Linked DNA regions of Homo sapiens: region 1 is linked to region 2. The links come from fine-mapping of genetic effects on gene expression. A gene starts in region 2. The other region holds a variant in brackets. All regions are shown on one strand. Distances are between the middles of the regions.

What was found. PIP is the estimated chance that this variant, and not a neighbour inherited with it, causes the effect.
Region 1: its variant is the best candidate, but not a certain one, in a credible set for the expression of RNGTT in whole blood (INTERVAL, PIP 0.69).

Annotation. Positions count from the first base shown.
Region 1 is chr6:88,803,190-88,808,382 of GRCh38, reverse strand. The region is part of intron 11 of RNGTT (RNA guanylyltransferase and 5'-phosphatase); the gene reads left to right. Among named protein-coding and RNA genes, the nearest start is that of RNGTT, 160 kb to the left of the region's middle. The variant T/C (reference allele first, on the strand shown) is at 2,150.
Region 2 is chr6:88,960,328-88,965,520 of GRCh38, reverse strand. RNGTT (RNA guanylyltransferase and 5'-phosphatase) reads left to right here and starts at 1,903. Exons shown (of 16, transcript NM_003800.5): 1 at 1,903-2,175. The coding sequence starts at 2,112. RefSeq lists a silencer at 1,606-1,840 and enhancers at 1,824-2,203, 2,558-3,484.

The sequences.
Region 1 (5,193 bases), 160 kb after region 2:
ATATATCTTTGTGTATATTTTAGCAGTTGTTCTAAGGTTTATAGTGTCTGTTTTCACAATTTACTTTTAAATAATAGTATGCCACTTCCTAGTTGGGGTTCTTACCTCATTTCCTTTTATACAATTTGTTTTTACATATGTTATAAATCCTACAATACATTGTTAATATTTTTACTTTAATTAGTCAATTATATTGTAAGAAAAGAAAGAGGAACACAGATTTCTTATATTTATTCTAGTTTTTAACCATTCCAATGCCCTTCATTATTTCAGTTTAGATACAGATTTTATTCTTGTATCATATTCCTTCTACCTGAAAATTTTCTTTTAAAATTTCTTATATTCTAGCTTGGTGGAAATATGTTTTATCAGCTATTGTCTGTCTGAAAAAGAACTCTACTGTGCCTTTATTATTGAAAGATATTTTCATTTGCTAAAGATTTTTGGATTGACATTGTTTCTATTAATATTAGTATGTTAAAGGTGAGGTTTCATTGTCTCATGGCTGGCGTAATTTCAGATAAGGAGTCTGCTGTCAATCTTATTTTTGTTCCTCTGCCTGTAATCTTTTCCCCCTTCTTGCTGGGTTTTGACTATGATAAACCTACATTTTTTTTTTTGTTTTTCTTAAATCTTTCTTCCTGTCCTCTTGGAGTCCATTGGGGTGTGTGTTTGTGTTTATGTGTTTAATTAATTTTGTAGCAATTGGAGGCATTATTTCTCTCAGTTGGTTTCTTTGCTTCCTTGTATCTTTCTTTTTGTTTTCGCATTCCAGCTGTACAAATGTTCTGTCTTTGGCTGTAGTCTCCCAGCTCTTTGATTCTCAGCACTGTTTCTTTTTTCCCTCTTTTTTTCTTTTTGTATTTCAGTTGGAAAAAGTGCCACGTACGTTTCTTCTTTAAGTTTAGTGACTTTTCTCTTCTGTGTCCAGTCTGTGGATAATCTCATTGATTATCATTCCCACTGATTAACATTCTTTTTCTCTGATGTTGTGTGTTTTTATTTCTGCATTTTCAATTGTTTCATTTTTATTGTTTCCATCTCTGCTGAAACTCCATATCCGTTTATGCATGTTTTCCACTTTTTTGTCTAGATCATTTACAATGTTATTTTTATTTATTTATTTGTTTTATCAACTTTTAAGTTCAGGGTACATGTGCAGGATGTGCAGGTTTGTTACATAAGTAAACACATGCTATGGTGGTTTCCTGCACAGATCATGCCGTCACCCAGGTATTAATTCAGCATCCATTAGCTATTCTTCCTAATGCTCTCCCTCTCCCCATGCCCCCCACAGGTGCCTGGTGTGTGTTGTTCACCCCCATGTGTCCATGTGTTCTCATCAATGAACTCCCACTTATAAGTGAGGACATTCAGTGTTTTGTTTTTTCGTTCCTACGTTAGTTTGCCGAGGATAATGGCTTCCAGCTCCATCCATGTCCCTGAAGGATACGATCTTGTTCCTTTTTGTGGCTGCATAGTATTCCATTGTGTATATGTATCATATTTTCTTTATTCAGTCTATCATTGATGGGCATTTAGGTTGATTCCATTACTTTGCTGTTATAAATAGTGCTGCAATGAATTTACACATGCATATATCTTTATAATAGAATGATTTATATTCCTTGGGTATATACCCAGTAATGGGATTGCTGGGTCAAATGATACTTCTGCCTTTAGGTCTCTGAGGAATCACCACACTGTCTTCCACAATGGTTGAACTAATTTACACTCCCACTCACAGTGTAACAGTGTTCCTTTTTCAGGCCGGGTGCGGTGGCCCACACCTGTAATCCCAGCACTTTAGGAGGCCGAGGCAGGCAGATCACGAGGTCAGGAGATTGAGACCATCCTGGCTAACATGGTGAAACCCCCTCTCTACTAAAAAGACAAAAATTAGCCAGGTGTGGTGGTGCGCGCCTGTAATCTAGCTACTTAGGAGGCCGAGGCAGGAGAATCTCTTGAACCCGGGAAGCAGAGGTTGCAGTGAGCCGAGACTGTGCCACTGCACTCCAGCCTGGGCGACAGAGTGAGACTCCATCTCAAAAAAAAAAAAAAAAAGCGTGTTCCTTTTTCTCGACAACGTTGCCAGCATCTGTTGTTTTTTGTAAATGTTATTTTTAAAGTCTTTGATAATTCCAAAATA[T/C]AGACCCTCTCTTTGTCTGCTTCTGTTGACTGCCTTATCTTTGAATATAGGCCATTTATTTTTCCTTTGTGTATGTGTGTGTGTGAGACAGAATTTTTAAATTAGACGTCTTTCGTGGATTTTTCTTTCCTATATGAACAAAAGAGACTGAGGTAAGTATCTTTATGCTTGGTAACAGGCATACTTCTTTTAGTTTGTTAATAGGCTTCATTTGTGGGTGGGGAGGGGTAGTGGTTGAATCAGCCTGTTCTATGTGTTGCTATATAATTACATCTTCAGTGCTCCAAAGAATTTATATTTTCTCAGCAGTTGGCTGCTGTTACTTGTATTTATTGTAATGCCTAGAGTATAAAAGGGTTTTCTCCTGGTGTTTCTGTTTCACGTTTAGCTTTCAGTAGGCTCTGCTCCCCTGTACCACAGAGTGTTCTATTTTCATACTTCTAGTACTTTTCCCCATATGTAAACAACTGTTTCTTGCCGCTCAGTGCCAGACTTGTGAAGACTGTGGAGTTTTCTTAGTTTTTCTTCTCCAGCCTTAGTATTAAGCAGAACCTGAGCACCTGAATCGCAGGCATGGGGTTTTCCTCAGTGGGTCTTCCCTCTCCCTCTTGCCAGTGAAGTTTTGCCTTGCATAGGGATATTTTGTCAGGACCAAGTCTTTCTGCTTTTTATCAATATAATATCATTGGTCCAAGTCTGTCTCCAGCTTCTTGTATAGCTGCATATGGATTTATTCCCAGGTAACTTTTGCATCATATCAAGAAGGGTTTGGAAAGCAGGAGGGTTTTAACGTCTGTGCCCAACCAAGGTGGGGGCATTCTCATGTTTCCTGCCCTGCCTGTGGTCTTTCTTGTGAAGCCTGATAGAAGCCTGAGAAAAAGTTTGTATCTCTTGTGTTTTGGGCTTCCAGGGATTCTAAACTGTTCCACTCGCCCAGACTTAGTTTTTAAGAATTGGTCAGTTGTTGTTTTCTTTGTACTCACTTATGGCTGCCACTTCCTCTTCCTTTTCTCTACCAAAGAAGACATGAGTTCATATACTTCACCCTCCTTTGGAGGGGCTGGGATTCAGTTTATTTGGTTGCCTGCAGATGTCAGCTTTCTGATGGCCATAACAAAAGTTATTATTTGATAGATTATCTGCTTTTTTATTATCATCAGTGTAGAAGCAGCATTCTCTTACTATTTTTCACATCGTAAATGAATGAGGAACTTTTTCTTAAACCAACCTTTTAAAGGTATCTTCAAAGAGCAAAGCACTTCTAAGATTATGAACATAGATCTATGGAATGAATGAGGGGAAAAAGCATTTTCTTAACATTAGTCAACCAGTACTTGTAGCTTGGGATAACATCTGCAGTTATAATCTCATGTATGATTTGAAGAATGCTGTAAATCAGAGACAGCAGCAGGAAAAATAATGGAAACTGGCTAAATGACTTAAAAGTTGGCTCTAATGATGAAGATACTGATATATGGAAGATGGCCGTAACAAGTTTGGATACTTTTTTTTTTTAAGAATTGTAAATAAACAAAAGCTAATATTTCTAATTTAATAAACACATTACATATATGATCTCATATGAATATATAAATCAGTTAATATAAAGTATACAATATTAATAACATTTTTAGATTACATCTCTATTCTTAGAAAACCTTTTTTCCTTCAAGAATTTTATCTCCCTTCATATTCACTTTATTCATATAGTATATTCTATAATGCATTTAAAGTCTATAAAATTTTTGTTAAATATACAAATGGGGTCTTGCTGTGTTGGCCAGGTTGGTCTTGAACTCCTGGCCTCAGGCAGTCCCCTGCCTCAGCCTCCCAAAGTGCCAGAATTACAGGTGTGAGCCACTGTGTCTGGCCAAGTCTATAAAATTTAAGTGGCTATTGGAGGACCTATATATTTAGGAACTTGCAGAAATCTTTGGGGCATTTGTTTCAGAGAGTCATAAGACTTTATTTAGTTATCTCTTTATTTTTAGTTAAAGTCTGATGTAATCTGTTCTGAGTGATTTTACTTTACTCTCTGAATTAAAGCTAGTTGCTTATGTCTGATGACCTCAGTTTCCTTTTCTGGCAAATTGAGTAATAATTCAAAACTTGAGAATACACATCTCATGAGGAGTTATGTATTTTGAATGATATGTTAAGTACCAAGCACAACACTCCATTGTAGGTCTTTGATACATGATAGGTGATATCATAAATATTATGTGTCAAGTAAAGAAAAAAATATTGTCTAGAGTAATGCAGAGGAACTCTTATTTTGACCCATGAATTTTCAGTCCTTTAAATACTCTGATTTATAAAAAGAGTAGAATAAAAAATGAAATTACTTTCATTTCTGCAGCAGGTAGAATCATGTTATGTAGAGTCTTGCTAACTGGCTATTTTTTATTGTTACTTTACATACAGGCATGGTCCATTACATGAATTTGAGAAGTTTGGTTGAAGAATGGAAACTACCATGTTAACTTGCCATAAATGATGTACCTACAATACAAGTAGAGCAAATGAAAGATTAAAGGTTACATTTTTTTAACCTTTTTTTTTTTTTTGAAAAAAGAGATTATTGTGGTATTTGGTTTTTATTGCATCATTGCTCAGCAGAAATGCTATGAATTTAGTTTTTTTTTTTTTTTTTTTTTGAGATGGAGTCTCACTCTGTTGCCCAGGCTGGAGTGCAGTGGCACAATCTTGGCTCACTGCAACCTCCGCCTCCTGGGTTCAGGTGATTCTCCTGCCTCGGCCTTGTGAGTAGTAGCTGGGACTACAGGCGCGCGCCACCACACCGGTTAATTTTTGTATTTTTTAGTAGAGATGGTGTTTCACCATATTGGACAGGCTGGTCTTGAACTCCTGACCTCATGATCTGCCCGCCTCAGCCTCCCAAATTGCTGGGATTACAGGTGTGAGCCACCATGCCCAGCCAACTTTTTCATCTTTCAAAACTGAAACTCATTAAAGACTACCCCCCAAGCCTCTGGCAATTACTGATCTAATTTCTATCTCAGTGTCAGAAAGGAACATTAAAA
Region 2 (5,193 bases):
TAGGAAAAGGGAAGACAGATAAGATCTCTCTCTTTTGCCAAAAGAGAACGTTCAATCTTATTTTTTACATGTACACACTCTTCCTTATGGGCAAAATGGATGTTTGATGAAAGACTCACCAATGAAGAGAATCTACATCTGATAAAGAGGAGATCAAGACATATCTGGGAGGGTGTCAGGGGTTCCAGGAAGCGGGGGAGGAATCATGTTGGTCTGTCTGTGAGCATCTATTTTTCTTCTCACAGAGTAGTAGAAACTTGGGACTAGGAGCAATATAGGCAGAAACACACATCAGGCAAGGCATTCCTGACAGGCAGAGAGAAACTGCCTGCTCATCGGGATGCCACTCTCCTACTCTACTCTCTATTGTGGACAAAAGGTAGCCACAGGGTCCTCCCAATTCTGTGGCAATGAGTATGGAGAGGGCATAACTGGATAGCAGAATAAAAATCCAGTGCACATTGCTGCCTTACAGCCAATAACAGTTGCTCGCCAGTGGTATGAAGCTTCTGTGTGCCTAGGACTGAGCTACTGGGTATAGCGTGTGTGGGAAGGGGAGTCACCAAGGGGAGTCATCCCCAGAAGGGGAAGGTAAGATACTCTTCCAGGATCAGGCTCACCTTTCCCATCCTTGGAGGGGGTCTGGGGATGGAAGGTTTTTACCACTTTGGGCATGGTACACACTCTATCAGCAGAAAAGGGAATTCATCGGAGATTATTTGGGTAGACTGATGGCCTTAAAGGAAACTGGGTATTATCTTGTTCTGTCAGGGGAGGAGTTTACACCTTCACTAACAGTTCTGAGCAGATGCAACAGCAGGACAGACCAGAAGTGTGACCTAACTCAGGCTGCCTCAGAGAGATTGCTGTTGGACTGCCTCTATTGATGGGACTCTTACTGAGGGGGTCCAGGCATTCAGGGGGTTGAGCGTCCCAGAAAGTTCCCCACCGACGCTTTAAAAATGTATTCCCTGCAGCCTTACGTTCTTGCAGTTCCAATATAGCATTGGTGTTTAAAGCCAAACTACATTATAATTGATTCGCCATCATCCAGCTTTATATTTAACACTTTAATCTGGTAACAAAGGAAAGGCTCGTTAAAGGACGGCATTTATAAAAATTTTTCAAGCACCTCTGCTTAACTCGAAGGGAAAATAAAAGGCACTGTTTATTTGGTAGGCCAAGGAGAACAACGCCACGAAGAGGTTCTCCACTGATCAATTCCTACCTTTGTCAATTATACCACATTAATTAGTAACTTTTTTTGGAGACATGGACCCTCTCAAACTCCCCAGTATGCTTTGAAACTTTGATCCAGAAATGTACAAACAAAACTCTAAGTGTTCTGGAATTAATTTCAGAAGCTTCATAGATCCTCGTAAGTACTCACCAAAAGAAAAATTCCCCATTTCTGGTACTCCAATCTCATGTCCTTAGAATTCTCCTAAGACTTGTTCCCTTGAACAACTTTCCCTAATTGCAAATCAAACCTAGATCCGGCTGGGACGCCAAGCTTGAGCTGTGGTAACGCTCAGAAGGCCTCTTTTCATCAGTAAAATAGATGCCTTAACGGAAGTGGCGGGCAATCTACGCATGGAAAGGCGCTTGGCTTCCCTCTTTTTTGGGTTTCTCTAGGTTGTCTGGATGGGAAAAAAATACACGCTTCGTCCTGCGGAGTTCGGTACGAGGGCAATTGCACATGCGCAAAGGCGAACCAGTAGCGTCCGGGCGCGTCCGTGGAGCGGGACGGGGCGGGGCGGGGCGGTGCCGAGTGGGGCGAGAGAAGGCCCGCTCCTCCCATTCGTCGCGTCCTTAACTCTTTGCTATCCTTCCGCTGAGCTTCCTCTTCTTTCCCTCTGACCTCGGAAAGGGGGCGGGGCTTTCGGGGGCGGAAGTTGCGGTGCATTGTGGGTTCTCCTGGAGCTGTGGAGTTGATCCTGAATGAAAGTGGCGCGCCGCCCCTGACGTTACCCGGATCGGAGAGGTTGGAATTCAGATTACGGCTGCGATTCGGGTGTCTCGGACCCCGGTGTGCACCGGACCACGGGGAGGCGGCTCCAAAGGCGCGGTGAACGTTGGTGAGGGAGGGCAGCTCTGCGCAGCCCCAAGACATGGCTCACAACAAGATCCCGCCGCGGTGGCTGAACTGTCCCCGGCGCGGCCAGCCGGTGGCAGGTAACCTGGACTGGGGGGCGTTCGAATCCCCACACTCCAACGTGCCCGGGGGTGGGCCGACTGAGGAGCTCAGCTTTTGGTGGTTCTGTGCCCATTAGTGGTATTTCAGGAGCGGGATATGCTCCGTCGGATTACGCTTCGTGGATGAATGGGAACATGAACGGGAGGGGATGGTCGGCGGATGGGGGGCACTTGTTACTATTCCTGCAAGGCTAACTGTGCGAATGTGAAGGTAGACAGGAGGTTGGTGGCAGGAGGTGAGGATCCAGGAATACAGTGGGCGTACTTTGAGTCTTAGTAGTTTGCGAACCTGTTAGGGTTCAACCTTCCCCTCGAAAGAAGGGATGAATATCAGTATTGAGATGGAGGAGGGTTAAGGAGGGAAGGGGCGGTTCCCAGCGGTGAAATGGGGTCACATTGAGACTGGGAATCTGGAGGGTGTTTTTGTTAGTTTTTTATTTTTATTTTCTTGTGAGACAGGGTCTCTTGCTCGGGCTGGGGATCCTCCCACCTCAGCCTCCCAAGTAGCTGGGACTACATGCTCCTGCCACCGCACCCGGCTAATTTTTTTATTTATTAAAGTATATATATATTTATAATGTATATATTTGAGACATAGTCTCTCTCTGTCGTCCAGGCTGGAGTGCAGTGGCGTGATCTCGGCTCACTGCCTCAGCCTCCCAAGTAGCTGGGATTACAGGCGCGTGCCACCACACCCGGCTAATTTTTGTTTTTAGTAGAGACAGGGTTTCATCGTGTTGACCAGGCTGGTCTCCAACGCCTGGCCTCAAGTGATCCGCCCGCCTCGGCCTCCCAAAGTGCTGGGATTACAGCCGTGAGCCACTGTGCCTGGCCATAATTTTTTTGTTTATTTTTTGTGGAGACAGGGTTTCACTGTGTTGCCCAGGCTGGTCTTGAACTCGTGGACTCAAGCGATGCTCCCACTTCGGCCTCCCAAAGTGTTGGGATTATAGGCGAGAGCCACCCCGCTTGGCCGGGTTTTTGTTTTTTTTAATTATTTTTCTTGTAGTTTTTTTCATCTTTATTGAGCTTGAATACAATAAGCTTTAAAGCGTACAGTTTGATAAATTTTGACTGTATATACACAAATATATCTCTTTCCTAGGAAACAACCATGAAACCCCTCAAAGTTTCCTCTTGCCCCTTTTTAAATCCCTCCTTCGCCTGGCAGCCACTGATCTGCTTTCTGTAATTATAGATTGGTTTGCATTTTCTAGAAATTTTTAAATAAATGGAAACATATAGTGAGTACTCTTCTTGGGGTGGAAGGAAGTGTGTGTGGCTTTTTTCACTCAGCATAATTAATTTGATACTCATCCAGATTATGCATGTATCAATAGTTTATTCCTTTTTTATTGCAGAGTAGTAGTTTATTGTTCTGGGTATACCACAATTTGTTTACCTGTTCATCTATTGATGGTCATTTGGGTTATTTCCAGTTTTTAGCTATTACAAATAAACCTGCTGTGAACATTCATGTACAATTCTTTGTGTGGACATATACTTTCATTTCTCTTGTGTAAGTCTCTAGGAGAGGAATGGCTGCATCATATGGTAGGTGTATGTTTTAAGAATTTTAAGAAACTGCCAACCTCTTTTCCAAAGTGGTAACACTTGATAGTCCCACCATCAATGTATTATACAGAAGAAATTCAAAGGACTTAAAAACTAGCAAAAAATTTGGACACTTCACAAAATAAGTTATATGAATAGCCAAAAAGCTATGATGGCGTGGTGGTATGTGCCTGTAATCCCAGCTACTCGGGAGGCCGAGGCAGGGGAATCACTTGAACCCAGGAGACGGAGGTTGCAGTGAGCTGAGATTGCACCACTGCACTCCAGCATGGGTGACAGAGTGAGACTCCATCTCAAAAAAAAAAAAAAGTAATTTGTACTTATCGTGTAATTTATTAGTAAGGGTTCTCTAGAGGGACAGAACTAATAGGAAATATATGTACATATATATATATACACACACACACATACATACACACACACACATACAGACGTAAAGGGGAGTTTATTAACTGTTAACTCACACGATCACAAGGTCCCACAATAGGTTGTCAGCAAACTGAGGAGCAAGGAGAGTCAGTCTGAGTCCCAAAATGGAAGAACTTGGAATCCAGTGTTTGAGGGCAGGAAGCGTCCACCACAGGACAAAGATGTAGGCTGGGAGGCTAAGCCGGTCAAGTCTTTTCACATTTTTCTGCCTGCTTTATATTCTAGCCATGCTGGCAGCTGATTAGATGGTGCCCACCCAGATTAAGGGTGGGTTTGCTTTTCCCAGCCCACTGATTCAAATGTTAATCTCCTTTGCAACACCCTCTACACCCAGGATCAATATTTTGCATCCTTCAATCCAATCGAGTTGACACTCAGTATTAACCATCACAGTAATTTCTTTGATATTTTGCATATTGAGGAAAATGTTATGGCTGCTCAAACTTATATGTTGTAAATGTTAGGATTCACTTTACTAGTACTAGAAGTTCATAATTTTCCTGAATCAGAAAGAAAATGGTACTAACTACATATAATTTGTTTCTCTGTGAAGTCACTTTCTCTGATGAAACCAGACTTGCAATGAGAGAGAGCTCTTGGAGACAGGGCCAAGCTTTATTTTCTGAAGAACTGTTTTTTCCTCCTTCTGAGTTAATAGATTTCAGGTGAATACTTGGAAGAAAACAAACTTATAATTTCTTTTCCTTTTTCCTTTTTTTCTTTTCTTTTCTTTTCTTTTTTGTATTTTTAGTAGAGATGGGGTTTCACCATGTTGGCCAGGCTGGTCTCCAACTGCTGACCTCGGGTGATCCGCCTGCCTTGGCCTCCCAAAGTGTTGGCATTACAGGTGTGAGCTACCGCACCCAGCCCTCCCTAGTTTCTTAAAGATATATCATTCAACATAAAATTATTTCATATCTGCTATGTAAAGAGCTTACTAGGAACTGTGGGAATGTAAATATGAGACACAGCCAGGTGCATTGGCACATACTT